Regions from separate parts of the Homo sapiens genome. Here all the other regions are reported to be linked to region 1. Evidence: microRNA targets listed by miRTarBase, many of them from high-throughput screens and not tested one by one. Region 1 holds a microRNA gene; each other region holds the end of a gene's coding sequence.

The links. The annotated mature microRNA hsa-miR-504-3p reads GGGAGUGCAGGGCAGGGUUUC and lies in region 1 at 3,581-3,601, shown strand. An mRNA with a match to its seed (bases 2 to 7 or 8) in the 3' UTR can be bound and repressed. Matches are read on the target gene's strand: a 7mer-m8 pairs with bases 2 to 8, a 7mer-A1 pairs with bases 2 to 7 and ends in A, and an 8mer does both.
Region 2: the mRNA of SMTNL2 is a reported target of hsa-miR-504-3p. Seed matches in the 3' UTR shown: 7mer-m8 at 1,135-1,141.
Region 3: the mRNA of DNPEP is a reported target of hsa-miR-504-3p. Seed matches in the 3' UTR shown: 7mer-A1 at 5,466-5,472 and 8mer at 4,472-4,479.
Region 4: the mRNA of SLC25A33 is a reported target of hsa-miR-504-3p. Seed matches in the 3' UTR shown: 7mer-A1 at 2,341-2,347 and 8mer at 3,117-3,124.

What each region holds. Positions count from the first base shown.
Region 1 is chrX:138,663,534-138,671,324 of GRCh38, reverse strand. MIR504 (microRNA 504) reads left to right here and starts at 3,532; the gene lies at 3,532-3,614. All of the region lies in intron 3 of FGF13 (fibroblast growth factor 13), which reads left to right.
Region 2 is chr17:4,606,488-4,614,278 of GRCh38, forward strand. It overlaps SMTNL2 (smoothelin like 2), which reads left to right. Exons shown (of 8, transcript NM_001114974.2): 8 at 874-1,832. The coding sequence ends at 1,000. LINC01996 (long intergenic non-protein coding RNA 1996) reads left to right here and starts at 3,962. Exons shown (of 2, transcript NR_145431.1): 1 at 3,962-4,346.
Region 3 is chr2:219,367,942-219,375,732 of GRCh38, forward strand. DNPEP (aspartyl aminopeptidase) reads right to left here. Exons shown (of 15, transcript NM_012100.4): 14 at 6,914-7,081; 15 at 4,102-6,401. The coding sequence ends at 6,351. LOC105373883 (a long non-coding RNA gene) reads right to left here and starts at 2,111. Exons shown (of 2, transcript XR_923917.3): 1 at 410-2,111.
Region 4 is chr1:9,580,842-9,588,632 of GRCh38, forward strand. SLC25A33 (solute carrier family 25 member 33) reads left to right here. Exons shown (of 7, transcript NM_032315.3): 7 at 1,458-4,332. The coding sequence ends at 1,660. Among named protein-coding and RNA genes, the nearest start is that of TMEM201, 4.2 kb to the right of the region's middle. RefSeq lists a silencer at 7,666-7,791.

The DNA of each region.
Region 1 (7,791 bases):
ACTTGTCCAAAAGCAGGTAAATATAAATAGAAAAACCGGAGGTTTTTCTTGATAAGAGTATCCCTCTATATGAAGCAGAGACGTAATTCAGCCTAATTTATATTGAACTCCTATAGTCCAACTATTGATTCCTTATCACTTGCTGACATTTGTTGCTAGGGAGCATTGTGAGTATTTGAAATATACATTTATTTCCACTAAGAGTTATGTAATCAATTTTAATATATTTTAAATATACTTTATGATGATGTAGATTAATAATGGAAATGATGATGGCGGTGGTGGTGGTGGCGATGGTGATGGTCATGTGTGTTTGTCATAGCTAAAGAACAGCATTGAAACTTTTCCAGTGCACACAACACACACAAAATCCACTTATAACTAAAAATTAATTATGAAGTAGGTCAGTCTTATAAAGGATTTTTAAGGAAACATAATTACATGAATTTTCTAGATTAACTCAAACTATGCTAACTCTTGTCCTCAGATGACTTGAATTAATGAAATGATATATAATTAGTGTTTCAGTTGTTTACATGTAAATATAAGTTGAGTATTCCAGAAAAGTTTGTTCGTAGGCACTTTTTCATCTCTAGTTTTTATTTTATACTGAAACAAAAAGAAATAAAACATCACCCCAAACTCACTACACAGATATTTCAGTGTCTATCACCTGTATGCCTCCCTGTGTATATATACACATATATCTACTTGATTGTATGTAAATGAGATAACTTTATATGACCTGTTCTGTAACTTGCTTTTTTACGCACATCTTGTGCATGTATTTCTATGTCAATAAATGTACATCCACATTATTGTTTTAAAAGATGAATAACATTCTGTTGTATGTATGTACCATAATCTGCTCATCCAGTCCTCTGCTGATGCATTTTTTTCTTTGTTGCTGTTACAAAATAATGTTATGGTAAACATTCTTATGCATGCATCATCTTTATAATTTGACTTGCAAGTATTTTTAAAGTTTCTTTCTCAGTGTCATTATTTTGTTCTATACGTATAAAGGGATCTCTAAACAAAATCAAGTTTCTTCCCTATTCTGTTTTTAAATTATTGTAAATTTCAAAGTAGCGAAATTGGAATAAATGAGATTTTACTGTGTACTTTGCCTGGAGCCCTCTCTTGAAGTGTATTCAAAGGGAATTAAAGGGCTTATTAACGGATAGGACTATTTGTGTTAAAGATGAAGTCTGTTGAACATTTTCACCTAAATATACCAATCTGATATTCTTGACGTTTTTTTGTTAAATTTGATGCTGACAATAAAAACTTTGGAATAAGCTATAATTTCTGCATCCATGCATATTCAGGTCTGAAAATGAAAGAAGAGTGTGACAGGTTTGCATGTAGAACTTCCCACCCACTCATTTCTTTCCTTTCTGCTTCTGACACTTCAGCCTTTGAAACAGTTTCCCATGAGCAATACTGAGATTCAGACTATTTAGATCTAAAGGAAAAAATGCAAGCTCTTCTACAGCTTGTATCTAGCACCTGGAAACGTCTTAGAAGAAGTGCTAAAATGTAAATAATGCTGTTATTTGTTATGCACATAGGAGAAATCCTAAAGGTATTTTAGGGAAGAGATGGAATCCAGAGATATTAAGAACAAGGTGTGGGGGCCAGGGGAGAAGGGGAGAGGCAGAAGGATCCTATCCACATTATTAAAGTGAAATATTTCCAGTATACTCTTATCAACTGACATGTAGACTGCATGCCGCTTTCATGCAAAGGTATCACATTTCAAACTTAGCATTTAAAAGAAGCCAGACAAGAAAGGAAAAGAGACAGTTATTTGTTGAAAAAAGTCTGGGTTTAGCATCAGGCACAGGGGTTATTGGTAGTTGTCTGAAGTACACTGGAGCCTTGTAACATTGTTTTGTGCCATGTATTGCCAGCCTGATACCACTGGAGTACATCCTCTGTCTAGTTTTCCAGAACTCACTACAATAACTGTAGGATTTTTCCATCCTTTATGAAATTGCATCAGTATTGTGAAGGGCCTTAAAAGCCATTCAGTTCAACAACCATCTCCCAAAAGAAAAGTTCCTCTTCTTTTTCCATTTATTTTATCTCTTCCCAAAGCCATGGGGACCTAGATACATCAATTATCCTTTGTCCTGTACCTTCACTACCTCCTGGACTACTACCTTTTTTCCACTGGCATACAGATCATTTCAAGACTTCTCATCCTAAAAAGTCCCTCCTAAGTTTCTCTTTCAGACTGTCTCTTTCCTTTGATAGGCAAGAGCTTTCTTCATTTTCTCGCCTATTTTTAAATTATTCAGCTTCACCTTTGCTTTTATTTTCTCATCTAATTCTTAATTATTCAGCCCTCCGCATTCTATCTTCTGCCCACATTGCCATCCATGAACTCCTCCTGCTAATGTCGCTAGTGACTGCCAACTAAAATCCATTTCTCCCTTCAGTCCTTACCTTATTTCTCCTTTCTACAGCACTTGACCAGGTTGGTCAACTTTTTCATTGAAACCATCTCTTCTGTGGGCTTTCACAACACTGCTTTTTCTCTGTTCTACACCATCACTATTTTTCTTTTAATTTTTACACTTCCCTCGTCTTTTCTGAAATGTTTGATGTCCTCCCCACCCCCAGTTTCCAGCCTCAGTAGTTGTCTTGTATTCTGCTTGTGTTCTCTAGATTATTAAATGTATTCTTGTGGTTTCAGTTACCATCCATATGCAGACACCTTTCATCTTGAGAGCCAGGCTTATATATACAAATGGCTGCTGCACATTAACCTATCACTAATGGCTCTTTAAACTCAAAATAACCAACAATGGAGTCATTGTCTCTATCTCTGAAATAGAACACACTACCCTCCCCCACTTCTTCCCCTTTTTACCCTGTGGCAACAACCTTTTGCTATCCTGATTTTAAGCAGGCTGCAGCATCATAATAAATGATACATAATATCTGCCTTTAAAATGCCTGTAGTGGTTAAGAGGGAGGGCTCTGACATTACATGGATTTGAAACACAATTCAAATGCTTATAAGGTTTATGATTTGGGGCAAAGGAATTATTAATCCATCTGTCCTTTAGTTTCCTCATCTATAAAATGGAGGTAATAGTAGTATAGACCTCATAGGGTTCTTAAGAGGATTAAATGGAATGATAATACATGCACAGCATTTTACAGTGTTAAGTTCATTAAGTTAACAAATGCTTCATATTATTTGCCGTTACAGTCCATATAATAACATGCTGCCTTCAGGCCAATATATATAAGCCTATAATTCTTGGAAGACTATGGAAATCCTATCATATATTAAATTGTCATTTTTTTTAAGACTAAGAAAAATTTATGTAAAGTCCAAAAGTACAGCTGTTTACAGGGGACGAACTGATCCACAAGGCCACAGTCTACCCTCATCAGTTAGTGTCCATCACTGAAGTGGAATAACTCAAAAGGAAAAGGTAACTCAACGAGCCATCCATTTCCCACATAGAATCACAACAGAAGACAGAAAATATGGAGTGGAATGTTGAATCAGCTGCTGTTGGGAGACCCTGGTCTGCACTCTATCTGTATTCTTACTGAAGGGAGTGCAGGGCAGGGTTTCCCATACAGAGGGCACAGACTACCACCGTATGGCAAATGTTGACTGGAACTCAACTTCAAAGCCATTTCACCTGGAATCTTACCCCACCACCCCAATGCTTCATGAAAATTCAACTGATCCTCTTCTATGAAGAAACTCAATCCTGATAAGTCTCTTTAGTAGTTATTGAAATGTCTTTGTAACTCTCTTATAGTCAGGTTCAGTAAGAATGTTAAGTTTCTAATTGAGCTTTTCTTTCTGAACAGTTATTTTGTGTATGTTTATTTTCTGTTTACCAATGTAATATATGTTCTTTGCAGAAAAATTGGAAAATACAAAAAGGTATCTACAAAGTCCCCCAACCAAGAGAAAACCAATATTAATGTTCTGTTATAGATCCTTGTAGTGGCTAGCTGGAATTCGTGTATATCTCTCTCTCTCTGTCTTTGTCTTTCTTTCTCTCTCTCTCTCTATATATATACATATATTCCAAATATACATTTTTATGTAATATATATGTATATTATATATGTATACATATATTCCAAATATACATATATATCTTCATGTAATATATACGTATTTTATATATATGTATAAATACATAATATACATATATAACCTAATATATGATATAGCATAATATATGTATACACATATATGTGTACATATATAAAATACATATATATTACATAAAGATATATATGTACATTTGGAATAACTATGCATACCATGTTTCAAACCTGCTGTTTACTCGTTATTATGACTATTCCTCTATATATTAAAATATTATTCTTAATCTACATTTTAGTGGTTGAATAGTAATAATCTATTTAGTTTGTTCTCTGTTTATTTGTTTTTGTTTTTGGGAACAAGGAACTGTTCACACCTAAATGTGTACAACCTTTATGTCTAGATCAGGCACTTGAATTCTTAAAAAAGTGTTAGGAAATGGAATAATGATCTTTTATTTATAAGTTGTATATGTTTCTGTATTCTGTTCATATATGATAATTGAAATAGACCTATATCTAACACTTTAAAATTTATAGTATTTTCATCTTTATTTCCTCATTTGATCCCTGCTACACCTTGTGAGATAGAGAAGGGCTTATTATTCTGTCCTTATAGATAAGGAAACTTATGTCCAGAAAGATGAAGTGGTTTTCCAAAAGACACGTAGCTAATAAATAATTGACAACATTGGAATTTGGAATTAGAAAGCAAGTCTTGTGACTCCTAACCAATACTCTTTCCAGTACACTTTGCCATGTCCCAACTTCACTTTCTTTAAGTGCTTCTTTCTAGCACCTCTTATTCAATTATTGTCATACGTACTTTTTGGATCATACCTTAGGAGAATGTAGCTTTCTCATGAATTTCCTCATTAGCTGACAACTGAATATGGCTAGATTTTAACAATAAAAACACATTTTTTTCTTTTCAGGAATGCAAATACACAGTGTATTATATGTAGAAAAAACTCTCAGATATTGGATCCTTATTGATGAGGCTTATGAGATAATATAGCAACTCAGACTTTTCTCAGGAAGAAGAAAATCCATGTCTTTTGTTGGACAGTTTAGAGAGTCTAGACTACCATCATTCAGCATTTGAACATTTTGATTTCAAAATGTAGACAATTGAAGAAATACAATGTAAATGCCAGGGAATTAAATCATAGGACAAAAACTCCCTATGAAAACATCTTAGTGATAGCATACATGTTAAAATTTTTGAAAACACTGGGAATGGTTTCACTTCTCATCTGAGTATCTGAGAAACAGATGATTATGTACCTCCCAGCCCTGTGTCAGCCCTAATTTAGTTGATGGCATTATTGCTCCCTGCTTTCTTTTTTTTCTCTTTATAGCAGATTGCTATTCTTTTTTACTTTAAAATAGCACCTTTTGCTGCCCTGTCTTATCCTTGTGCTCTTTTAAAAAGTGGTCAGGCACACACTTTTGTCACTAGTTTTACATGAGGGTAGGGGCTTTCTCTTTTCTTTTCAAAAATTAAGTGCCACTACATCTCAGTTAAACTGCCTTCATCTGACAAGCACTTACAGAATACTGAAATATAATCTACTGCAAAAAATCTACATGTTTTTCATAAATACGAATGAAATGCTTTTAATATTATCCCTGTGTTCAGAGTTAATGCTTAGGCATTAACTAAAGTACGCTAGACGCTTTTGATATATTTCCAAAGGCCCAGCCAGAAAGATATATTGCAGATACACATATTCTAAGTGTTTACAAAATCTTCCAAAATTATTTTGCCTGTGTCTGCTTAAAAGGCACAGGAAACAGCTCCCCTACTATCTCCTCTATCCAGTCAGGAACACTTGCAGTAAGGACACTGGTTGTTCAGTGCACAAGGATTAAAGTAACTTAATTACACAGTCAAATCAATAATAAATTGAGATCATTAGAGCCTTGGCTCGAGCTGAACCCCAGGTAGCCGTGGAATCCCTATGATACTTGAAGAAGAATTGACACAGATTCTAAGGCCTCACAGGTTCAAGGAGAAGCAGACAGCCTCACTTTGTTCCTTCAAATTAGTTTTGAGTGGAGGAATCTTAGGTTTAAGTGAGACCTGGATCTTGTTTTGGGGTGATCTCTGGAAACTGGGATATAATCTACTCTCCAGGGTAGAAGACTATGAAGGGACTAAAGGAGCAAACTCTAGGTCACTGAGAACCCCTTTCCTACAAACAAAGATCTTGGTTGTGTTCCCTCACTTCCAGAGAGCTCATTGGACCGAGCATACCCTTGAGTATTAAGGTCAGTGCATACTGAGTTTAAAAACAACATAGGTATAAAATTGAATGGAGCAGTGGTGAGGAAGGTGGAAAAGGATGAGAAGGGAACTTCCTTTGGACTTCTTTGAGCCAAAATAAGTAGTATGTTTCCTAAATTCTTGTAATCAGACCATTGTTGGCTATTGGTAGAGGGAGGTTCAGATTTTCCATCTCTATCTTTTTTCTTCTGTTTCTTGGTCCTTCTGCCACTGCTTCTTTTAAAAAGAAATAAACTCATTTTTTTCTCAGCCTTATGTGGGAAACCCTCTTGGCATTTTCTAACTGCCAAGTGTTCTATAACTAGCCATCTGTGGAATATTTTTTTGTTAAGTTAATTTTTTAAATTAATTCATTTCCCTTTTCTCTCTCTCTCTCTCTCTCTCACACATGCAAACTAGTGTTTGAAGATCAATGAGCAAATGATCTTTCTTGTAACAACTTCCCTTTTTCAGCTGATCGCTTTTCTGAATTTTATCTCCTAAAATCACTTAAATAATTTCACTGAAACAAAGGAATGATTGGTCTTTTAAAGACTCGTACATGTATTGAATATAACATTTCCGACCTGACTAATAATTTGAAGTAACTTTGAGCTTTTCGAGGGCCCTAGCCAAAACAAAATGTTAGATGGCCTTTAACATTTATGTCTTCAAGGGACTGTGCTAGCCAAAGTTTCCTCCCAATCTGGAGGCAGCTTTGTGCCATAGCAATTTTCAGGCTTCATTGCATCAATCAAACAAATTGTTCTTGTAGTGCTTACTTACTGGGGAATTCACCAGCTGGAAGATTGTACCATTGAGCCAAAACAGGCCACTGGAACAGCCATACTCTTTACTTCATTTATGGAGCCATTTAAGAAGATGCTGTAGTGGCAGCTGCCTGTTTGTCAGAACAGCCTTGGAGGTGTGCTGAATGAAACCTAATTTAGACTAGTAGATGATCAGATGACAAAGAATACCAGAGATACAGGTGAATCACAAAAGAAGATGCTGTGAGACTTTCTGTAAGGAATTCCCCACCATGACTTTAGAAAAACTAAAGTTTCAGCTGCAGTTATGTTGAGTGAAGTGTAAAGCCTTGAAAACATAGACTAAAATGGTCCCCCTCCTCTCTCTCTTATCATATAAACACACCCCAACCCTATAATTTTTCTGATACAAATTGTATTTGGATTTTGCATAGATGGCCAGTTTACTTTTAAATAAGAATTATATGCCTGTTTATTTGAATGTCTGTTCCTAAGATTATCCACAACCACAACTCCATTTATTATATGTTTACATAATGTTGGGTGAGGGAGAGTAGTCAATGATGATTCATTTGGGACTAGATACAGAATTAAAATATAAAACAAATATTATCATTCTCAAGGTTTTAATAGATGGCTGAACACAAGGTATGAGTTTAG
Region 2 (7,791 bases), not on the chromosome of region 1:
TGGGTCGCCTGTGCCTGTAATCACAGCTACTCAGGAGGCTGAGGTGGGAAGATCGCTTGAGGCAGGCGTTCAAGACCAGTCTGGGTAACATAGTGAGACCCCATCTCTACAAAACTATTTTTAAAAAACTAGCTGGGCCGGGCGTGGTGTCTCACGCCTGTAATCACAGCACTTTGGGAGGCCAAGGCAGGTGGATCACCTGAGGTCAGGAGATCGAGACCAGCCTGGCCAACATGGTGAAACCTTGTCTCTACTAAAAATACAAAAAAAAAATTAGCCAGGCGTGGTGGCAGACACCTGTAATCCCAGCTACTCGGGAGGCTGAGACAGGAGAATCACTCGAACCCGGGAGGCAGAGGTTGCAGTGAGCCAAGATTGTGCCACTGCGCTCCAGCCTGGGCAACAAGAGCAAAACTCTGTCTCAAAAACAAAACAAAAAAACAAACAACTAGCTGGGCATGGTGGTGTGTGCCTGGAATCACAGCTACTTGGGAAGACAAGGCGTGAGGATCACTTGGGCCTAGGAGATCGAGGCTGCAATAAGCTAGGATCGTGCCTCTGTACTCATGCCTGGGCAACAGAGCAAGCCCCTGTCTCTAAAAAAAAAACCCAAATTAAATAAAGTAAGTCTGTTTAAATGAAAACATGAATTGTACAGGTGGCTCATAAATCTGGGAGTTTGGGAAACATTGTATTGGAGTCAGTGACTCCAAGGGTTCTGCCAGGGTTATCTGAATTCCCCGCTGGTGGGTCCTTGGGAACCTCTGGCTGCCGGCTGAGCTCTGTTCCCGGGACCGAGACACCGGCCCTGTCGCGGCTGTGGGGCTGGCTGATGGCTGGGACCACCGTTCTGACGGGGCTTGTGTGTTTCAGGAATCTGGCCAACTGTGAGCGCCTCATCGAAGTGGAGGACATGATGGTGATGGGCCGCAAGCCGGACCCCATGTGTGTCTTCACCTACGTCCAGTCGCTGTACAACCACCTGCGTCGCTTCGAGTAAAGCCCCTGAGCCTGGATTGCCAAAGAGCAGCCCCAGGAAGAGGCCGGGGGTCCGCTTGCGATTCCCCAGCCAGGATGCCCCCAGGAGCCTTGCCGTTTGGTGTGAGCGCGCTGTTTGTTCTGTGGCATGTGACGGCACTCCCCTTCGAGCCCAGCTGTGTTACTGATTAAAAGTACTGCTGAGCTGTGGTCCGACAGCACTGATCACAGCCAAGGGCTTGGAGGAAAAGGAAAAATTATGAGAGAGAGAGAGACATTGGTGCTAAGTAATGATCTTCCTAAAGAAATGCTTGTGTTTATAGCTTCCAGAATGCTAATCTACAATTTTCCCTCTGGTGAATTCGATACATCGGCTTTACAGGGTTACAGTGATTACCAAGTGTTTTTTTTTATCAAAATACCCAGAGTTTTTTACTTCCTCACGCGATTGTAGGTTCCTCTCCTCCCTCCCTCTGGGCCACTGCCAGGAAACAGAGAGACCGCTTAATCAGCAGCTTGACAAAGAAGACCTCAAGTCTTGGGAAGAAACAGTTTAATCACTCCCAAGTCCTGGGCAACAGATGACCTTCAAGTCACCTCCGCTCTCCGGGGAGATGGGAAGGCTCTCCTCTCGGTCCCAAAGTCCTCCTGTTCTTCCCAGGAGGCCCCACAAGTGTTTGGCTAAGCACAGGCTCTCGGGAATTTAACACTTTTGGGGAAGGAATAGGCCCTTTGTGCTGAGAGAGAGTTTTTATTCACATCTTTTTTAGGGGATTTGCTGCAGATATTTATAAAAAGTAACTCCCTCTGTACCACTGACCCATTTATACATAAAAAAGATGTGTTGAATTTTGCTTGGGGTTTGTCATTTCTGTTTAGGAGATGGGAGTTCTGTGAATAAGAGACTTTGCACACCTTCCAAGTGAATATCCACTACATTCCACCCCTGTTCCTGCACTTAAATCACTGGCCTGGAAAGCTGAAGATGGCATTTGCTGTCATCTCTGATCATCTCTGAGTGTGCCTGTCTCCCATCTCCATGTTGTGGAAGGAGCGTCAACAGAAAGTTCCCCTTGAGATCCGTCCTCTGGATGTAGACCGCAGTGTTTGTGATAAACAGTGGCCCAAGACAGCAGGGTTTGGGGTGGTCCCGCACTTGGAGGAAGCCCATCAAGGAACGTTGGTTTATTTTCACAGCTGTTTGGTGGTAGGACTTTCATAGAAAAATCTTGAGATTCTATAGAGCTCCAGCCATTAGCTTATTCTCAGCCAAGAATCATTGTATAATTGGGTTGGATTTTAGCCATGCACTTCTAAACCTTCCCTTTAAGGAGCGGATCTGTGTCTTCACCTCATGCAGCCGGCTCTCAACACCAGTGCCTGTGTGCCTTTGTGGGGTCCCACGTGTCCCTTGGGTGGTATATTGGGGGGTGGGCAGGAGATCCCTGGGGGTGTCAGGAGGAACATGGCAGAGCCTGCAGGTGGGTGAGCAGTATTCTCCATGGATTGGTTGGTCCAGGCTGCAGTCTTGCCCTCTCTCTCGGATTCTCCCACTCTGGAAACCATTCCCTTGCTAGCTCTCTCGTCTCTTGTACGCTTGGGGAGGTGAGACCTATTATTAACAGGACACATAACTGAAGGTTAGGGTTTCAAACCTGAAGCCAATCTGGGAACACAAGGGCTCTGTAAAAAGCATGGCTATATGTTACTGAGTCCTCGCACACGTTAAATGGAGCTCTCCCGAGTTGCAGACATGGCCGTACGCTCTGCGCATGAAACAGAGCAGATCCTGCCAGAATGCAGAACAATTTCTTTTAAACTTTAGGAATGGTGTCCCTCATGTCTCACATTCAGAATGAGACAGACTCGAGTTTTTAAAGTTGGTTCCATGATGTTCTTGTCTGTGGTCTTTGTTGGGGGTGGGGGGTGAGAGATCATAAGACAGTTTGTGAGTTTCAAACATGATTTTACCTCTAAGACAAAGCATGAGAAGAAAATCCAGGAAGGTCTCACAATCCTAAGATATTTGGAAACCACCGTTTTAGGTCGGGGTTACGTGAATGTTCCCCATTTGTGAGACCCAATTTCATCTTGCTTTCTACCCTGGTATGGAGGAATTCACATCTTTTTTCCCCTTTCCCGAGAGAATTATTTCTTGGAGCTGCTCATAAGAGTCTTCTGTTTTTCCAGATAGATTCCTTCACCTGGATTTTGTTAAACTTATTAAGTCGGACCAAATTGGCTTGTGTGTTTCCCTGAAGTGAACGTTTCACCAGAGCCACGATGGGTTTTAGCTTTTCTGATAGCTGATGGATATTTTTCAAGGCAAGCGAGAGCCTATAAGCACTTTCTGAATATGACAGAGCACATGCTGGTGAGAGGAGACCGCACAGGCCAGGTGTTTGGGGAACAGTTTGTTAAAGCCAATGAATTTCGCAAATGTGCTAGATGATGAAGAGTTCTCAGCTTTCCCGGTTGCAGTGATCAGAACTCTGTAACTGGAGACCGGTGTGAGAGAAGATTTTATTCTCTGCCATCATGACCGGGTCTATACGACTGCAGGCAATTGCACAGAAGACTAGAAATGCTGATTCAGTTGGTCAGTTTGGGGTGGGACATCTTACCAGTCCAGCAGAACCAACTCTGGCTTGGGTTTTTCTAGCTGGTGACAGGTGACCAACTCATTCTGATGAGTTGATTACGCCTGTGGACGTGGCCCACTTGATTTATTTTTTCTCCCTCTGTTAGCTGTGCTCTCCCAACCACCTGATAAATGGACCCAGTATGATTATTTCTGAGCCATCTTATCTCTCTCACTTTTAAAGCTTGGATTGGGTTTGCTTTTAGAGCTTTTGATCTCTTATCTCTTGGTTCTTGGACTTGCTTTGATACCAAACAGCCCTCATAGTCTTTTGAAAGAACACCTTAAAAATTCCTAGGCTGGGCGCGGTGGCTCATGCCTGTAGTCCTAGCACTTTGGGAGGCCGAGACAGGACAAATATTTGAGCTCTGGAGTTTGAGACCAGCCTGGGCAACAGAGTGAGACTCTGTCTCTACAGAAAGTTTTAAAATTAGCCAGGTGTAGTGACACATGCTTGTAGTCCCCATTACTTGGAAGGCCAAGGCGGGAGGATGGCTTGAGCCTGGGAGGTCAAGGCATCAGTGAGCGATGGTTGTGCCACTGCCTGGAGATAGAGTGAGACCCTGTCTCAAAAAAGAAAGAAAGAAAGAAAGAAAAATCCCTAAGACCTGACCTGCCTACTCCCTAGAAAGCACCAAATAAGGAAAAGCACTCCGGAAGAATGAAGCTAAGAAGGCTGTGCTCTCTGAGGCATCCGGGCAGCCTTCACTGGAGGGACAAGGTCCAGGTAGGTGGGATGACAAGCTGGGAAGGGGCCCTGAACCAGAGGCAGGTGATGTGGGTGGTGGCACCAGAGAGACACCAGACAGTGTTACCGTAGGTCTTGACTGTCCACCTTCATTCCTGAAGTTGATCCAGCTTTCTTACTGTCACGTAGGTGGATATAAAATCGATCTTTAGGGTTCTGATTTTTTGTTTGTTTTTGTTTTTTTTGAGACGGAGTCTCACTCTGTCACCCAGGCTGGAGTGCAGTGGCACAATCTTGGCTCACTGCAACCTCCACCTCCCAGGTTCAAGCGATTCTCGTGCCTCAGCCTCCTGTGTAGCTGGATGTACAGGCGCCCGCCACCATGCCAGGCTAATTTTTGTATTTTTAGTACAGACGGGGTTTCACCATGTTGGTCAGGCTGGTCTCGAACTCCTGACCTCAAGTGATCCGCCTGCCTTGGCCTCCCAAAGTGCTGGGATTACAGGCATGAGCCACTGCGCCCGGCCGGGGATCTGAGTTTTAATCACTCCCAGTGCAAGCGTCCTTATCTGGTTTGCAGACTGAGTGGCATTTGTGCTGCCGAGGCTCTTCCTGGCTTGCCCTCCTCTCTGGCTGTTGCTTTCCCTCCTCTGTTCATTAGAGCCTCCTCTCCTCGGCTTGTTGCTCCTATGTGCTGTGACCTAAGCTCTATGCTCCTTCTTCTACATTAGGGTTCATAGCCCAGGACTTTGGGGAGTCTGTGGATGTCCAAATTGAGTGTTTTACCTCAATTTGGTTGAGGTTGCAGTGAGCCGAGATTGAGCCATTGCACTCCAGCCTGGGCAACAAGAGTGAAACTCTGTCTCAAAAAATTGTATTTCTGGCCGGGCGCGGTGGCTCACGCCTGTAATCCCAGCACTTTGGGAGGCCGAGGCAGACGAATCACGAGGTCAGGGGATCGAGACCATCCTGGCTAGTACGGTGAAACCCCCGTCTCTACTAAAAATACAAAAAATTAGCTGGGCGTGGTGGCGGGCGCCTGTAGTCCCAGCTACTCAGGAGGCTGAGGCAGGAGAATGGCGTGAACCCGGGAGGAGCTTGCAGTGAGCGGAGATCGTGCCACTGCACTCCAGCCTGGGCGACAGAGCGAGACTCCATCTCAAAAAAAAAAAAAACATATATTTCTTTGATGTTTACTGGCTGGCATTCTTCTGTAAAGAAAGTCTTTCCCTCCCTCCAACTCAGTTTTTGAGTGTTCCTGGAGGCCCATGGATTTTTTTTTTTAATTCAATGTGTTGTAATCGCTTACTGTTATAATTTTTTTTGATGCTCAAACTGTTCAGAGGGAGAAGACAGCTCTTGTGTCTTTTTGCCATATTCCCATGGTTCTTTGAGCATTTTATTTTCTTTTACTTTTTTGAGACAGAGTCTCACTCTGTTGCCCAGGCTGGAGTGCAGTGGCGTGATCTCAGCTCACTACAACCTCCACCTCCCAGGTTCAAGCGATTCTCGTGCCTCAGCCTCCTGAGTAGCTGGAACTACAGGCATAAGCCACCACGCCTGGCTAATTTTTATATTTTTAGTAGAGACGGGGTTTCACCATGTTGGCCAGGCTGGTCTTGAACTCCTGACCTCAGGTGATCTGCCCACCTCGGCCTCCCAAAGTGCTGGGATTACAGGCGTGAGCCACCGTGCCCGGCCTTTGGGCACATTCTTGCTTTCTGGCACAAGGCGCTCCAGACTGACCTTTTACTTTCCTTGCCCCAACTGTGGAATCAGTCATTTATTCAGATCCTGGTCTCTTGTGGTGGAGAATTTTTATTTCCCAATGAAGGTCCAGGGACTTGGTGTGCCGGTTTTGCTGGGTGTCCTGCTTCTAGGCCCTTGCAGTGAACAGAGCTAAGATGTTTTAGAAGAGCCTGCAAGTATACTGAAACCTCCAGCTTCAATTCAGCACCACAGGCCTCATCTGTACATTAGTCCCTATTTTTCCTTTTTTCAAACCATCCTGATTCCCAACAATTTCAATACACTTACGGATTTCTTCTGTACCGCAATGTCCAAATTCTGAAACAGTAGTTTCCGAATTCTTAAACTGATGTCACTGCCAACAACAAACCCACCAAGTAAGGTTTGGGATTTCCCTTCAGCCCCTTTCCCCACCTTTGGGTATATTCCCTAAGGGTGCACAGGGTGCTGGATTCAAAAGTTACTTGAGGCTGGGCACGGTGGCTCACGCCTGTAATCCCAGCACTCTGGGAGGCCGAGGCAGGCGGATCACTTGAGGCCAGGAGTTCAAGACCAGCCTGGCCAACATAGCGAAACCCTGTCTCTACTAAAAATACAAAAATTAGCCGGGCATGGTGGTACATGCCTGTAATCCCAGCTACTAGGGAGGCTGAGGCAGGAGAATTGCTTGAACCAGGACCTGGGAGGCGGAGGTTGCAGTGAGCCAAGACCACGCCACTGCACTCCAGCACACGAAGTGACAGAGTGAGACCCTGTTTCAAAAAAAAAAAAAAAGAAATAAAAGTTACTTGAATTATTTTCTCTTGGAAACCATGTTATGAATTTGATATGCATGAGGTTGACTTGATTCTGTTTGTATTCAATTAAAGGTTTGTTTCCATCATTTTTATTTTCTTTTTTTGACTATGTAAATACTTCACCTAGGTCAAAAGTCAAAACTCTACAAAAAGGTATATTCCCATTCCCATTCCTCCATCTGTTCCCACCCTTAGTCTCTGTTTTCTCCTCCTTGCCTGTCTTCTCCCTTCCTCCTTTTCTTTTTACCTTCCTTCCACAACAATAAGCAGGTATATATCTATCATTTCACAGAGATCCTTCTCGTCCTTTTTTTCTTTTTCTTTTTCTTTTTTTGAGATGGAGACTTGCTCTGGAGTGCAGTGGTGCAATCTCAGCTCACTGCAACCTCCACCTCTTAGGTTCAAGCGATTCTCCTGCCTCAGCCTCCCAAGTAGCTGGGACCACAGACACCCGCCACCACGCCTGGCTAATTTTTGTATTTTTGATAGAGACGGGGTTTCACCATGTTGGCCAGGCTGGTCTCGAACTCCTGACCTCAGATGATCCGCCTGCCTTGGCCTCCCAGGGAAGTGCTGGGATTACAGGTGTGAGCCACTGCGCCCGGCTGATCCTCCTCCTCTTTAAAAAAGCCCTGCATAGGCCAGGCACGGTGGCTCATGATGCCTGTAATCTTAGCACTTTGGGAGGCCGAGGTGGGTGGATTAACTGAGCTCAGGAGTTCGAAACCACTCTGGGTAACACGGTGAAACCCCGTCTCTACTAAAATACAAAAAATTAGCTGGGTGTGGCAGTGTGCGCCTGTAATCCCAGCTACTTGGGAGGCTGAGACAGGAGAGTCGCTTGAACCCTGGAGGCGAAGGTTGCAGTGAGCCGAGATAGCACCATTGCACTCCAGCCTGGGCAACAGAGCAAGACTCCATCTCAAAAAAAAAAATGC
Region 3 (7,791 bases), not on the chromosome of region 1:
GATCACACCATTGCACTCCAGCCTGGGTGACAGAGCAAGACTCTGTCTCAAAAAACACACACACACACACACACACACACACACACACACACACACAAATTTTCTCTGTAGAGATCTTGCATAACTTTATTGACAGATACTTGATTTTTATGCTTGTAGAAGTAAACCTTTTAAAAATTTCGTTTTCTACCCATTTTTTATTGGTATGTAGAAATAAAATTGATATTTGTATGTTGATTTTTCAGCCAGCTGTATTGATAAACTCTCTCATTACGGCCGGGTGCAGTGGCTTACACCTGTAATCCCAGCACTTTTGGAGGCCGAGGCAGGCCGATCACGAGGCCAGGAGATCAAGACCATCCTGGCCAGCATGGTGAAACCCTGTCTCTACTAAAAGTACAAAAATTACCTGGGTGTGGTGGTGTGCACCTGTAGTCCCAGCTACTCGGGAGACTGAGGCAGGAGAATGGCTTGAACCTTGGAGGCAGAGGTTGAAGTGAACCAAGATCACACCACTGCACTCCAGCCTGGGTGACAGAGCGAGTCTCGGTCTCAAAAATAAATAAATAAATAACTTATTAATTCAAATAGTATAACTTTTGGATTTTCTACATAACAAATAATATAAAAAGAAAGTTTTATTCCTCCCTTTCCACCTTTCTTTCATTCCTTTTCTTGTTTTAGTACATAGCTAAAGACCTAGAGTAAAATGCTGAATCGTAATAGAATAGCAGACATCCTTATCTAAAAATCTCAGAAGAATTCTAACTTAGTTTCAGTTTTCCCAGAAGCAGACCCGGAGACAAGGATCTGTGTACAGGAATTTACTGGGAGGTGAAGGAAAACATTGGTTGGGGAGTGGGAAAGGGAGACAAGGAAGGGAAGGTGGCCAATAGAGGCATGTGTTATCAGGCTTATCTCTGGAGCAGAATTCTGCTGGGGGGACTCTGGGAGCCAGTGTAAACTACATGCCTCAGAGTTCTCTCACCCCAGATGGGAGGGAGCTGTGGTATTCAGACACAGAGTCTTGCCAGTTATTGTTTAGAGCTGCTGTGGGATGGAGCTTGAATTCCCCAGCACTTCCAACTGCCATGGGAGTGGAAAACTGTAGTCAAGCAGCAAAGAAAGCCCTCAGGCAAGAAGTGCAGATGCTGGCAGCTGAAAACGGTAGTGTGTACACTGAAATGGTAAAAGTGACGGATACAGGTAAGTTGCCAACAGTGTCTTCTACAAACCCCTTCAACATTTTACTGCATTAACAAGTAACATTTGCAGTCCCCATAGGATAACGGCAGCTGCATAAGTCCAGCCTTTCTAGACACGCTCCTAAAATCATTTTGTCAATGAAGAGAGAAAGAAGGGGAAGAATACACATAATTGCTGAGCATGGTGGCTCACACCTGTAATACCAGGCCAAGGTGGGGGGAATTGGTTGAGTCCAGGAGTTCAAGACCAGTCTGGGCAACATAGTGAGACCGTGTCTCTACTAAAAATTAAAAAAAATTAGCTGGGTGTGGGGGCGCATGCCTGTAGTCCCAGCTGCTCAGGGGGACTGAGGCAGGAGGATCACTTGAGCCTGGGAAGTTGAGGCCGCAGTGAGCCAAGATTGCATCACTGCACTCCAGCCTGGGCAACAGACCAAGACACTGTCTCAAAACAAACAAACAACACACACACACACACACACACACACACAATCCATGCTTACAGCATAATTAGGAGACAGAAAACACCACAAACTATGATGGTAAAATGTTGCCACCTGGCCACTGTTACTCTGAAGTCCTACTATCACCATTAACATCAGGGAGCTCAGTTCTCTGGTAGCATTCCCTACTGTGAACCCTGGCCTACAAAGGACAGCCACCACTCAGTCAAAGTCTAGTAACTGTCATACTACAGCATGCAGGGTTTACCACCACCACACTTAGCATTAACAAACAAATAAGAATCCTGGTACTTAGAAAATACACAGAATAGACTAAGTTAAGGAAAAAGGAGAATGGACAAATACAAGAGAAAGAAGGAGGAGGAGGAGGAAAAAAAAAGGAGAAAGAGGAAGAGAAGATAAAAGGGGCTGGGCGTGGTGGCTCACGCCTATAATCCCAGCACTTTGGGAGGCTGAGGTGGGCAGATCACCTGAGGTCAGGAGTTTGAGACCAGCCTGGCAAACATGATGAAACCCCGCCTCTACTAAAATACAAAAAAAAAAAGCTGGGCGTGGTGACACGCACCTGTAATCCCCACTACTCAGGAGGCTGAGGCAGGAGAATGGCTTGAACCCAGGAGGCAGAAGTTGCAGTGAGCCGAGATGGCGTCACTGCACTCCAGCCTGGGTGACAGAATGAGAGTCTGTCTCAGAAGAAAAAAGGAAAAGAAGAAAAGAAAATTCTAAAAAAGGTAAACTAATCTATAGTGACAGAAAGCAGATCAATGGTTGCTTGGACGTCAGGAGTGGAGAGAGAGATTGATTGCAAAGGGGTACAAGAGGATGATGGAAAGGTTCTGTATCTTGATTGTGGTGGTGGTTTCCCAGGTGTATATGGTATATCTGTCAAAATTCATAGAATTTTACACTTTAAGTGTATAATTTATTATATGGAAATAATACCCCAATTTTTTTTTTTTTTGAGATGGAGTTTCGCTTTTGTTGCCCAGGCTGCAGTGCAATGGCACAATCTTGTCTCACCACAACCTCTGCCTCCCGGGTTCAAGTGATTCTTCTGCCTCAGCCTCCCGAGTAGCTGGGATTACAGGCATGTGCCACCATGCCCGGCTAATTTTGTATTTTTAGTAGAGACAGGGTTCCTCCATGTTGGTCAGGCTGGTCTCAAACTCCGAACCTCAGGTGACACGCCCACCCCGGCCTCCCAAAGTGCTGGGATTACAGGCATGAGCCACTGCACCCAGCCTTCATGTATAACTTTTAACTCCCTGTAAACTTAATTACTGTTGACCAGAAGCTTTACTGATGACATAAACAGATTACCACATATGAAGTATATTCTATGTATTACACACTGTATTCTTACAATAAAATAAGCTAGAGAAAAGAAAATGTTATGCCTGTAATCCCAGTACTTTGGGATGCTGAGGCAGGAGGAATGCTTAGGCCAGGAGTTTAAGACCATCCTGGGAAATGTAGTGAGACCCTGTCTCTTTAAAAAATTAAAAAATTAGCTGGGTATGGTGGTGGGCACCTGTAGTCCCAGCTATTCAGGAGGCTGAGTGGGAGGATCGCTTGAACCTGGGAGGTGAAGGTTGCACTAAGCCAAGATCTTGCTACTGCACTCTAGCCTGGGCAACAGAGCAAGACACTGTCTGAAAAAAAAAAAAAAGGTGGGGGGGGGAGAGAATGTATTTACTATTCATTAAGTGGAAGTGGATCATCATAAAGTCTTCATCTTTGTCGTCTTCATGTTGAGTAGGCCAAGGAGGAGGAAGAGAAGGGTTGGTTGGGGCAACAGTGGGAGAAGAGGCGGAGGAGGTAGAATAGGGGGTAGCAGGGGTGGGGGTTCAGGAGAGCCAGGCATACTTGGTATAACTTTTTTTTTTTTCCAAGACGGAGTCTTGCTCTGTTGCCCAGGCTGGAGTGCAGTGGTGCGATCTCCGCTCACTGCAACCCCCGCCTCCCAGGTTCAAGCAGTTCTGTTGCCTCAGCCTCCCAAGTAGCTGGGATTACAGGCGCCCACCACCACAACCTGCTAAATTTTGTATTTTTAGTAGAGATGGGGTTTCACCATGTTGGCCAGGCTGGTCTCGAATTCCTGACCTCATGATCCGCCCACCTCAGCCTCCCAAAGTGCTGGGATTACAGGTGTGAGCCACCGCACCTGGCCGGTATAACTTTTATTGGGACAAATCCACATGTAAGTGGATGAATTTGAACTGCACAGGTCCATTTATATGTGGATTTTCTTCCACCTCTGGGGTAACATTTCTATCACCCTCTTAAAAGTTTTCTTGCACCCTTTTGCAACCAAACTCTCTCTCAATCCTTGACATTCAAGCAACCACTGGTCTGCTGTCACTATAGTTCAGCTGGCATTTTCTAGAATTTATCCCATGGGAAAAACCAAGGCAAATGTACAATGATATATGTACATTTATCTCAATGTTATTTAGAGTTGTCAACTGGAGAAAAACTTAAATGACCATTATTAACAGACTGAATAAATAATGACCATCTATACAATAAAATACTGTACGCCAATTGTAAGAGTAAATACAGTGTGAGGGTAAAATTTTTTACATAAGTAATACATGGTACATTCTGTTATACAAAAGGAAACCATTACAAAAAGGCTAAGGCCCTTTTGTCACTCCCAACCCAGAAGATCACTGTAAAAGTTTCAGGTGCATTTTTCCAGGCTTTTTCTATACATGTATACATCTACGTGCATATTTATATACACATAAAAATATATAATAATTTTTTTTTTGAGACGGAGTCTGGCTCTGTCGCCCAGGCTGGAGTGCAGTGGCTCAATCTTGGCTCACTGCAGCCTCTGCCTCCCTGGCTCAAGCTATTCTCCTGCCTCAGCCTCCCGAGTAGCTGGGATTACAGGCACCCACCACCACGCATGGCTAATTTTTTTTGTATTTTTAGTAGAGAGGTTTTCACCATGTTGGCCAGGCTGGTTTTGAACTCCTGACCTCAAGTGATCTGCCCACCTCGGCCTCCCAAAGTGCTGGGATTACAGGCATAAGCCACCGTGCCTGGCCATATAATGTTTTGAAGGTACTCCTTGTCCTGTGTCCAGTTCTGCAACCTGCCTTTTCTACTCAACAATGTCTTTGTAATCTCTTCATGTTAGTACACACACTATACAATTTATCTTTTTCTCAATAGCTACCTATAATGGACATTTCATAGTGTATTTGGGCTTGCCTTTACTGAGAAATCTTTAGATGAATTCTAACTTTTTGCCATTGCTAAATTAAATTTATATGTATTGATATAGAAATATCTCTATATTATATTAAGTTTTTTAGAAAGCTGAAGTGGAATATTTATATGGAAATAAACTTTTATATAGGTATCAAAAAGATTGGAAGGACACCAGTTTGCACAATTATTTTAGTGGAAGGAAGGAGGTTGGTTTATAAGCAGGCTTTGACTTTTTCTTTTTCTTTTTTTTTTTTTGAGAGAGTTTCACCCTTGTTGCCCAGGCTAGAGTGCAATGGCAGGATCTTGGCTCACCACAACCTCCGCCTCCTGGGTTCAAGCGATTCTCCTGCCTCAGCCTCCGGAGTGGCTGAGATTACAGGCATGTGCCACCACGCCCGGCTAATTTTGTATTTTTAGCAGGGACAGGGTTTCTCCATGTTGGTCAGGCTGGTCTTGAACTCCCGACCTCAGGTGATCCGCCCACCTCAGCCTCCTAAAGTGCTGGGACTACAGGCATGACCCATCACGCCTGGCCTTTTTTCTCTGAGACAGAGCCTTGCTCTGTTGCCCAGGCTGGAGTGTGGTGGCTCCATCTCAGCTCACTGCAACCTACGCCTCCTTGGTTCAAGCTATTCTCCTGCCTCAGTCTCCTGAATAGCTGAGATTACAGGTGTGTGCCACCATGCCTGGCTAATTTTTTTGTATTTTTTTTTAAGTAGAGATGGGTTTCACCATGTTGGCAAGGCTGGTCTTGAACTCTGACCTCAAGTGATCCACCTGCCTTGGCCTCCCAAAATGCTGGGAATACAGATGTGAGCCGCTGCACCCGGCCAGACTTTGACTTTTCCAATTTTTTCAATGATAATCTTTTTTCCTGATAATATGTTCACAATCAAGTAATACCAGGGACTGCTGAGAAGTGGATGATGAAGGGTGATAAGGTATAGACTGTGCCCTTCTCTTTGCAGCTCCTGAGAGGGGATGGGAAGGGATTTTGGGAGGGTGAGAAACAGCTTTGTCTGCCCAGAGCAGCTCTGAAGGTGGCCCAGTGCAGAACAGGATCTCTGAAGGCAGAGCGGGACACCCATTCTGGGGATGGAAAGAGGGAAGACCGTTGAGGCCATTTCCCAGGTGGAGGACTAGGGGTGGGAGAAGTGACCTTCTGCTTGAGGATCCAGTCCACCCTTCACCCACTTCAGACATGGACTTGAGACAGAGAAGAGATTTAAAACCAGATTTAAAACCATCAGCTCCCAGGAGTGTGGCCTCCTCCACCTGCTCCCCAACTTTTCTGGTTCCAAAGGTTCAAGCCAGGCTCAACTCCCACTCCTCTAGTCTCCAAATAAGCGTAGCACGGAGAGTCTGAGTGACAATCCACTTTAATAATCCAGCTTCAGCTCAGCTGAGAACTTCCCCTCTCAGGTGCAAAGGGATGGCAGAGAAGTCTTTCCAAGAGGGCTCAATCCACTAAGAGATTATGGCTTAGAGAAGGGAACAGCTCAAAGAAGCCCTATAATGGGAGGCAACATGGAGTTTGGAATTAGTGAGTGACCAGATGGAGATGTCCTGCCACCCACCTCCCACCAACATATGTTCCAGCAAGAGAAGCACCGAGGTTTCATCTGTTCTTGACAGCCACCCCAGTCTTCTCAGCCCTGATCCCCTCTTCCCATCCCCTCATTTTCCATTTCTTTGGGTCAGGGCCCCTGAGCCTTGAGAAGAATAAGGACCGTTGTTTTATCTCTTTTTTCTCTTTTGTAGAGACATGGACTTGCCATGTTGCTCAGGCTGGTCTCAAACTCCTGGCCTCAAGCAATCCTCCCACCTCCCCAAGTGTTGTCATTATAGCATGAGCCACTGTGGTTGGCCAGGACCCTTGTTTTCCTACATGGCCCCAGCATGACAACCAGCCCCCATTACTCAGGCCAGTCACTTTGTGATGGCGATGTTGTCCCAGCAACCAATCCAGGCACTAGAGGGGAAGCAGCCCAGCTGCCAGAGAGGGTCTGGGGTGGGTGTTACCTTGAAGAGGGTGAGGGTCTGGAGGACTCCTGTGGTGCAGGCCATCTCCCGGATAGAGTGCATGGCCAGTTGGGGGCTGCCTAAATCCAGCACCCGCAGCCCCAGCCGAGAAGCCAAGATAGGTCCAATGGTGGTTCCACAGGGGGTGTCATTCCGGACCATGAGATCCTAGGGAGAGCAGGAGACCCATGAGCAACATGCAGTGTGTGCTTATCAGAGCCAAGGAGGACGCCATCTTAGAATTGCAGGGTGGGAAGGGGCCTGGGAGATGGTCCATTCGGAGCATAAAATCAAAGCCAATGCTAAATGGCAGACCCCAAAGGACAATATATTCTGAATTGGTCCCATTCTATCTGCATTGCCACCACCCTAGTTCCAATCCATTCTCCACACAGCAGGAAGGGGGATTTTTAAAAGTATCCATCCTTGTCACCCTCTTGCTTAATATCCACACTCACAGAAAAAAATCACTCAGTGGTATCAGTGTCTTTAAAAATATTGCTACTGACATTTTGAAATGATTTTCTTTATATTATGGTAAAAAAATAAGAAAATGAAAATATGATGCTAGATATCAAGGTTTTCAGTGTAAGAGAAAACAGAATTACAAAATCAAATAGGTAGTAACTATTTAACTAAATAAGAATAATTTTATGAATAAGAATTACAGTATTAACTCATGATTTTTATTTAAAAATTTTTATTTTATTTTATTTATTTATTTTGAGATGGAGTCTCCCTGCGATGCCCAGGCTGGAGTGCAGTGGCGCAATCTCAGCTCGCTGCAACCTCTGCCTCCTGGGTTCAAGCGATTCTCCTGTCTCAGCCTCCCAAGTAGCTGGGATTACAGGCACGCACCACCACGTTCAGCTAATTAT
Region 4 (7,791 bases), not on the chromosome of region 1:
GAGACTCTGTCTCAAAAAAAAAAAAATAATAATAATAATAATAATAATAATAATCATTCAGCCTCTATTTCTAATGGAGCCTTAAGGCTACTTTGGGTAAGTTTATTTTTTTGAGTTATAGAATTCTTGACCTACTGGCCTACTTATTTTAAAAAATGCTTAGTTTATTGTGCCATGAAAAACAGGTTTTATTTTCATAAGCCTTCTGTACTGTCAGCTATGGCAAATGCATACAGTCAACTCAGTAACAGGTGCTGAGTCCCCTTTGTGTCCTGGAGCACTAAGCTGACCCCAGAGGACATCTGAGGAAAGAGGTCAGTGATGCCTCCCAGGGTCTGAGGTCTGTGTGAGGGCAGGAGTGACGAATGTCCAACTCTAGGTGTCTGGGAAGGAGGCCCAGGTGGGCAAAGGCTGGCAAAGGAGAGGGTGGCTTTTGAGCTGGGCAGAGTAGAAAACGTTTCCAGGAGGAGGAGGAAACTGAAAAATATAAGAAAAGAATTCGTTGAAGGTATTGCCATACTTCATACAAATTAGCATTTGCTTAATTGGGAGTAGAAAACCATGAATTATTTTAACATTAAGTCTCATTGAAACTAAGCTTTTTTTAACCCCTTAAAAGTTATTTTGCTGTAATCCCAGCACTTTGGGAGGCCAAGATGGGCACATCACCTGAGATTAGGAGTTCGAAACCAGGCTGGCCAACATGGCGAAACCCCGTCTCTACTAAAAATACAAAAATTAGCTGGGTGTGGTGGCAGGTGCCTGTAATCCCAGCTACTCAGGAGGCTGAGGCAGGAGAATCACTTGAACCCAGAAGGCAGAGGTTGCAGTGAGCCAAGATCGTACCGACTGCACTCCAGCCTGAGTAATAGAGTGAGACTCTGCCTCAAAAAAAAAAAAAAAAAAGTTATTTTGTACTTTCGTGTATGTGTAAGTGTCCATAGTTGACCAAATCCTAGAGTTGGAAAAGGTTCTAAAAAGAACTTAATTTTTCATTGTCTCTCTAGGTTATGTGACTTTCCTGTCCAAATACAGCTGAGGTGGGAAATAGACACAGTTGTAACCTTGACAATTTTATTTTATTTATTTATTTTTTGAGACAGAGTCTTGCTTGCTCCGTGGCCCAGGCTGGAGTGTAGTGGCACGATCCCGACTCATTGCGACCTTCACCTCCCAGGTTCAAGCGATCCTCATTCCTCAGCCACTCTAGTAGTAGGCGTGCACCACCTTGCCTGGCTAATTTTTGTTTTTCAGTAGAGACGGGGTTTCACCATGTTGGCCAGGCTGGTCTCCAACTCCTGGCCTCAAGTGATCCACCCGCCTCGGCCTCCCAAAGTTCTGGGATTACAGGTGTGAGCCACCGCACCCGGCCTAACCTTGACAGTTTTAAAGTTGTGTGCTGTGGATTCGTTCCCCATTTAATATGTGGCGTAAAGTAGGTCTTTCTCTCTCTGCAGAAGTCATAAGGACGAGGCTCCGGGAAGAGGGCACCAAGTACAAGTCTTTTGTCCAGACGGCGCGCCTGGTGTTCCGGGAAGAAGGCTACCTTGCCTTTTATAGAGGACTGTTTGCCCAGCTTATCCGGCAGATCCCAAATACTGCCATTGTGTTGTCTACTTATGAGTTAATTGTGTACCTGTTAGAAGACCGTACTCAGTAACAGGCCGGAAAATTGTGCTCTAGAAGAATAAAACTGAAAAACTCTAGAGAATTTTTTTTCCCCATTGATGTTTAGAAAGTTTGAGACTGAAACAGGAAAGGCCATAAAATATCTGGTTCATATCACCTGTTGGACATTTCCTTTTGGATTCATGCTTTCTGGAAGGTTTAAATTCATTAACGTTAATAGTTAATTATAACTTTTTTTTTAACTTAAGAGGATTCAGGGTTAAGCACCAACTAAATTAAATCATGCTATTTAATTTAAGTATACATTTGGCTTGTGTCCTCTTTTATGCTCACTATACTATGAAGGACTTAAGTAATTCAGATAAACCTGCCCTAGAACTGCAGAGAAAAATGATAAAGTGAGAATACAACTTGTTTTATAATCTGACTTTAAGATCTTGCACTGCTAGACAGGGAAGAAGTGTCGCATTTTGGCTGGGCACTGTGGCTCACGCCCGTAATCCCAGCACTTTGGGAGGCCGAGGCAGATGGATCACGTGAAGTCAGGAGTTCCAGACCAGCCTGGCCAACATGGCGAAACCCTGTCTCTACTAAAAATACAAAAATTAGCCGGACGTGTGCCTGTAATCCCAGCTACTTGGGAGGCTGAGGCAGGAGAATCACTTGAAACCCAGGGGGCAGAGGTTGCAGCGAGCTGAGATCACGTCACTTCACTCCAGCCTGGTCGACAGAGTGAGACTCCATCTCAAAAAAAAAAAAATTGTGTCACATTTTGGTGGTGGTGTGTGGACCAGGACAAACTTCCCAGCAATTTTTCTTCTTTGTACATTTCCAATTACTTGCAGATTGATCATCTAAGCGTTCAGACTGCTGAGATGAATATATATAACTTTCTGAGACTCAATATTTTAAGCTATAAAAAACTTCCTGAAGTTATCCTTTTCTCCCTACTTTGAACCAAAGGCAAGAATTTTTAAAGAACTGTTTTATCAATGGCCTGGCTCCTGGATATAGTTCCGGAAGTTAAGACCAGTTGCCTTGTTAAGTGTGTTGACAGCACAGCTACCCTGTTTGGCTGTGAATCCAGAATGTGATGAAGAACAGTCATTCCCACTGAGGTCTTTAGCCCTGTTCTTGGACCTCTGCTCTTGCAGAAAAGGAGCACAACGTAGGACTATGGCTCACCCGTCAGAGAGCTCACATTCTGATAGAAAGCACTGGGATTGTTTAAATATCCTAGTTCAACATTAAAAAAAAAAAAAATTTAATCCCAGCACTTTGGGAGGCCAAGGCGGGCAGATCACGAGGTCAGGAGATCGAGACCATCCTGGCTAACACGGTGAAACCCCGTCTCTACTAAAAAAATACAAAAAAATTGGCCATGCGTGGTGGCGGGCACCCATAGTCCCAGCTACTCGGGAGGCTGAGGCAGGAGAATGGCGTGAACCTGGGAGGCGGAGCTTGCAGTGAGCTGAGATGGCGCCACTGCACTCCAGCCTGGGCCACAGAGTGCGACTCCATCTCAAAAAAAAAAAAAAAACCAGGATGTTACCCCCTTGGTTTTAAAGCAAATTTAATAAGGGAACAAAAAGATGATACTAAGAAGAAGGCAAGTAAAACCCCTAGTCTTCCATTAGCTCTTTCACTGGAATTTGAGTATATTGTACATGAAGGTTGGTTTTCAATTTGAACGTCTAGAAAGATACTCATTTCTAATACCTATGCACTGTAGTTTCAGGTTTACTTGCAGACACCCTGGTAGGGTTAAGAGGAGGATATTTCCAAGTTATTTTAAATTGAGTTTACTTTTAACTGGGGTTCTTGACTCTAGTGTAATTGCTCCAACAACTACGTAGAAGTCAAAATGAGTGACTTTAGTGAAGCTTCTGTACTTTACAATACATGACAGTAATGCTATTCCAGAAGTTTTGTTTTGTTTTGTTTTGAGATGGAGTCTCGCTCTGTCTCTCCCAGGCTGGAGTGCAGTGGCACAATCTCGGCTCACTACAGCCTCCACCTCCCGGTTTCAAGCAATTCTCCTGTCTTAGCCTCCTGAGTAGCTGGGACTACAGGCATGCGCCACCACACCTGGCTAATTTTGTATTTTTAGTAGAGATGGGGTTTCACCATGTTGGCCAGGCTGGTCTCAAACTCTTGACCTCAGGTGATCTACCCGCCTCGGCCTCCCAAAGTACTGGGATTACAGGAGGGAGCCACCATACCTGGCCCGCGCCGCCCCTTCCTTTGTTGTTATTGTTGTTTTGAGACAAGGTATCACTCGATCACTGAAGCTGGATACAGTGGCAAGATCATAGCTCACTGTAACCTCAAACTCCTGGGCACAAGGGATCCTCGCATCTCAGCCTCCCAAGTAGCTTGGACCACAGGAAAGTACCACCATGCCCAGCTAATGTTTTTTCATTTTTTGTGCAGACGAGGTTTTGCTATGTTGTCCAGGCTGGTCTCAGACTACTGGCCAGAAGCGATCTTACCTCCTCAGCCTCCCAAAGCACTGGAATTACAGAGTAACATCTAATTTTAATATTCACATTCCTATTTTAATATTCATATTCGATGATGGCACTTAGCAACATCCTCCTATATCCATATTAAAACCTGTTTTCCAAGATTGTGTCTAATATGAAGGTGTAAAATTGCTTTGTTTTCACTCCTTCTTGAATGAATAAATTTGATAGTAACCAATTATAATTTTAGTTTTCTGCTTCTCCTGCCCCAGGGCATGGAAATGCAAGCTGCTTAGGCACCCAAAGTAGGAAAGAAGTGATGGTTCCTCTGTAAAGGGCTCATTAGCTTTAAAAATGGGAAATACCTGTGGTTTTTCTCTTAATTTTTGTGGGTATATAGGAGGTATATATATTTATGGGGTACATGAGATGTTTTGATACAGGCGTGCAACGTGAAATAAGCACATCATGAAGAATGGGGTATCCATCCCTTCAAGCGTGTATCCATTGAGTTGCAAACAATCCAGTTACACTCTTGTTATTCTGAAATGCACAGTTAATGTTGGGGTTGGGTGGTTCACGCTTGTAATCCCAGCACTTTGGGAGGGTGAGGCAGGTGGAGGATCACTTGCGCTCAGGAGTTCGAGACCAGCCTGGCAACATGGTGAAACCCTGTCTTTATTTAAAAAAAAAAAAAAAAGCTGGGTGCGGTGGTGTGCACTTGTGGTCTCAGCTACTCCAGAGGCTGAGGCAGGAGAATGAAGGACTTGAGCCCAGGAGGCGGAGGTTGCCGTGAGCTGAGATGGCACCATTGCAGTCCAGCTTGGGTGACAGGAGTGACCCTGTCTCAAAAGTACGATTAAATTATTATTGACTGTAGTCATCCTGTTGTGCTTTTTTCTTTCTCTTTTTTTAATATAAAGATTTTTTAAATTAAAACAATTTTTTTTTGAGACGGAGTCTCGCTCTGTGGCCCAGGCTGAAGTGCAATGGCATGATCTCGGCTCACTGCAACCTCCACCTCCTGGGTTCAAGCGATTCTCCTGCCTCAGCCTCCCAAGTATCTGGAATTACAGGTGCCCGCCACCACGCCTGGCTAATTTTTGTATTTTTAGTAGAGACAGGGTTTCACCATATTGGCCAGGCTGGTCTCAAACTCCTGATCTCAAGTTATCTGCCTGCCTTGGCCTCCCAAAGTGCTGGGATTACAGGCATTAGCCACCTTGCGGTAGCTCACACCTGTAATCCCAGCACTTTGGGAGGCTGAGGAAGGAGAATTGCTTGAGGCCAGGAGTTCAAGGCCAGCCTGGGCAACATAGGGAGACCTTCTCTTTACAAAAAAATTAGCTGAGCATGCACCTGTAGTCCCAGCTACTTGGGAGGCTGAGGTGGGAGGATCCCTTGAGGCCAGGAGGTTGAGGCTGCAGTGAGCCATGGGATTGTGCCACTCTACTCCAATCTGGACGACAGAGCAAGAGGGGCATCTGAGCCTGTGGAATGGTCTGACTTCAAAGTCAAGATCTGACAAACCATTTCATTCCTTTTACTTAAGAATTACAGATCCATGGATGATACTGCTGATAAAGGTGTGCTTAAACTAATGCACGTAATAGAATTGGCCACATAAAGAGTCCTTTGGGTGGGACATGCAAACTGAATCTTCCTTGGGAAGCAAATGGCACTTAAACACAATGCCTGCCTGCTGTTTTGAGGGAAGATACACCTTAAATGATTATTTTGTTTGCTCATGGCTGGTGAAAGCATCAAGACTGCATGGAAAGGCTTTTGCTGGGATACTCACAAGAAAGAGGAGGTCCAGACCCAAGTGAACCTCCAGGTTTCCTGTCTGCTTCACTTTCCAGTCCCCCTTCCCCCCAGTGAATGTGCATGATTCCGGTGTGGACAGAGGAACTGGCTGCAGGAGCAAAAAAACATTTGCCCTCAATCCATCACTACCCACAAAGAGTTTACAATGTTAACCTCAAAAAAAAAAAAGTGATCAGAACACTGGAACATAGTGTGTAATTAGATACAAATATTTTCTGTTTACTTTTTTAAAACTAGTAATTTAGCTGAAATCAATAATGAAACACAGTGACTCTTCCCCTTGAATCTCCTCCCACCACCAGGTAATCAGTTTGCAGTTCAGTGTTAACTATTCTCCACTTCCCACAAGCACATAAGGCTTTATTTAAGCTTTGGATATTATTTAAAAATCAATCTGCATGTTGCTTTTTCTTTTTCTTTTTCTTTTTTTTTTTTTTTTTGAGATGGAGTCTCACTCTGTTGCCAGGCTGGAGTGCAGTGACGCAACCTCAGCTCGCTGCAACCTCCGCCTCCTGGGTTCAAGCAATTCTCCTGCCTTAGCCTCCCATGTAGCTGGGACTACAGGCGCCCACCACCACACCCAGCTAATTTTTGTATTTTTAGTGGAGACCAGGTTTCACCATGTTGGTCAGGATGGTCTCCAGCTCCTGACCTTGTGATCCGCCTGCCTCGGCCTCCCAAAATGCTGGAATTACAGGCGTGAGCCACCATGTGCCCGGCCTGCATGTTGCTTTTTTGTTGTCGTTTTTGTTTTTTCAGAAGGAGTCTCCTGTCACCAGGCTGGAATGCAGCGGCACAATCTTGACTCGTTGCAACCTCCGCCTCCCAGGTTCAAGCGATTCTTGTGCCTCAGCTTCCCGAGTAGCTGGGATTACAGGTGTGCACCACCACGCCCGGCTAATTTTTGTATTTTCAGTAGAGATGGGGTTTCACCATGTTGCCCAGGCTGGTCTTGAACTTCTGACCTCAGGTGATCCGCCCGCCTCGGCCTCCCAAAGTGCTGGAATTACAGGTGTGAGCCACCGCGCCCTGCCTGCATGTTGCTTTTTAAAAACAATGTATCATCCATCTATGCCAATAACTCCAGATCTGGCTTTCTTTTCTTTTCTTCCTTTCTTTCTTTCCTTCTTTCCTTCCTTCTTTCCTTTCTTCCTTCCTTCCTTCTTTCTCTCTCTCTCTCTTTCCTTGCCTTTCCTTTCTTTTTTGAGAAGGAGTCTCGCTTTTGTCGCCCAGGCTGGAGTGCAGTGGCGCGATCTCGGCTCACTGCAAGCTTCGCCTCCCGGGTTCACGCCATTCTCCTGCCTCAGCCTCCCGAGTAGCTGGGACTACAGGCGCCCGCCACCACGCCCGGCTAATTTTTTGTATTTTTAGTAGAGAGGGGGTTTCACCGTGTTAGCCAGGATGGTCTCGATCTCCTGACCTCGTGATCCGCCCGCCTCGGCCTCTCAAAGTGCTGGGATTACAGGCGTGAGCCACCGCGCCCTGCCTGGATCTGGCATTCTTTCTAATGGTTGCATTATGTTCCGAACTATGGCTGTCCTATGATTTATTCAACCATGTCCCTATCCGTGGATGATCGTGTTTCTAAAAAGCTAGTTTTTCAACCATTAGAGCGGCTCAAGGAGCTGCTAAACAGCACTGGGCGCATAGGCTGGGTTTGACTAGACAGGATTAGCGAGGGGGAAAAAGACTAATTACAAGCAGTTGCGTACTCTGGAGATGCTCCCCTTAGCAGAAGCTCGGTGGACTGTCTGCAGCCAGACCTCCGGGCCTGGCGGCTGGCGCGGGAGGCAGAAGGCGGGGCTTTCCTACAGGGCTCCGTGCCCCGCCCTCCCCGCGCCGCCTTCCACCTCCGGCCGCGCGGGGGCGC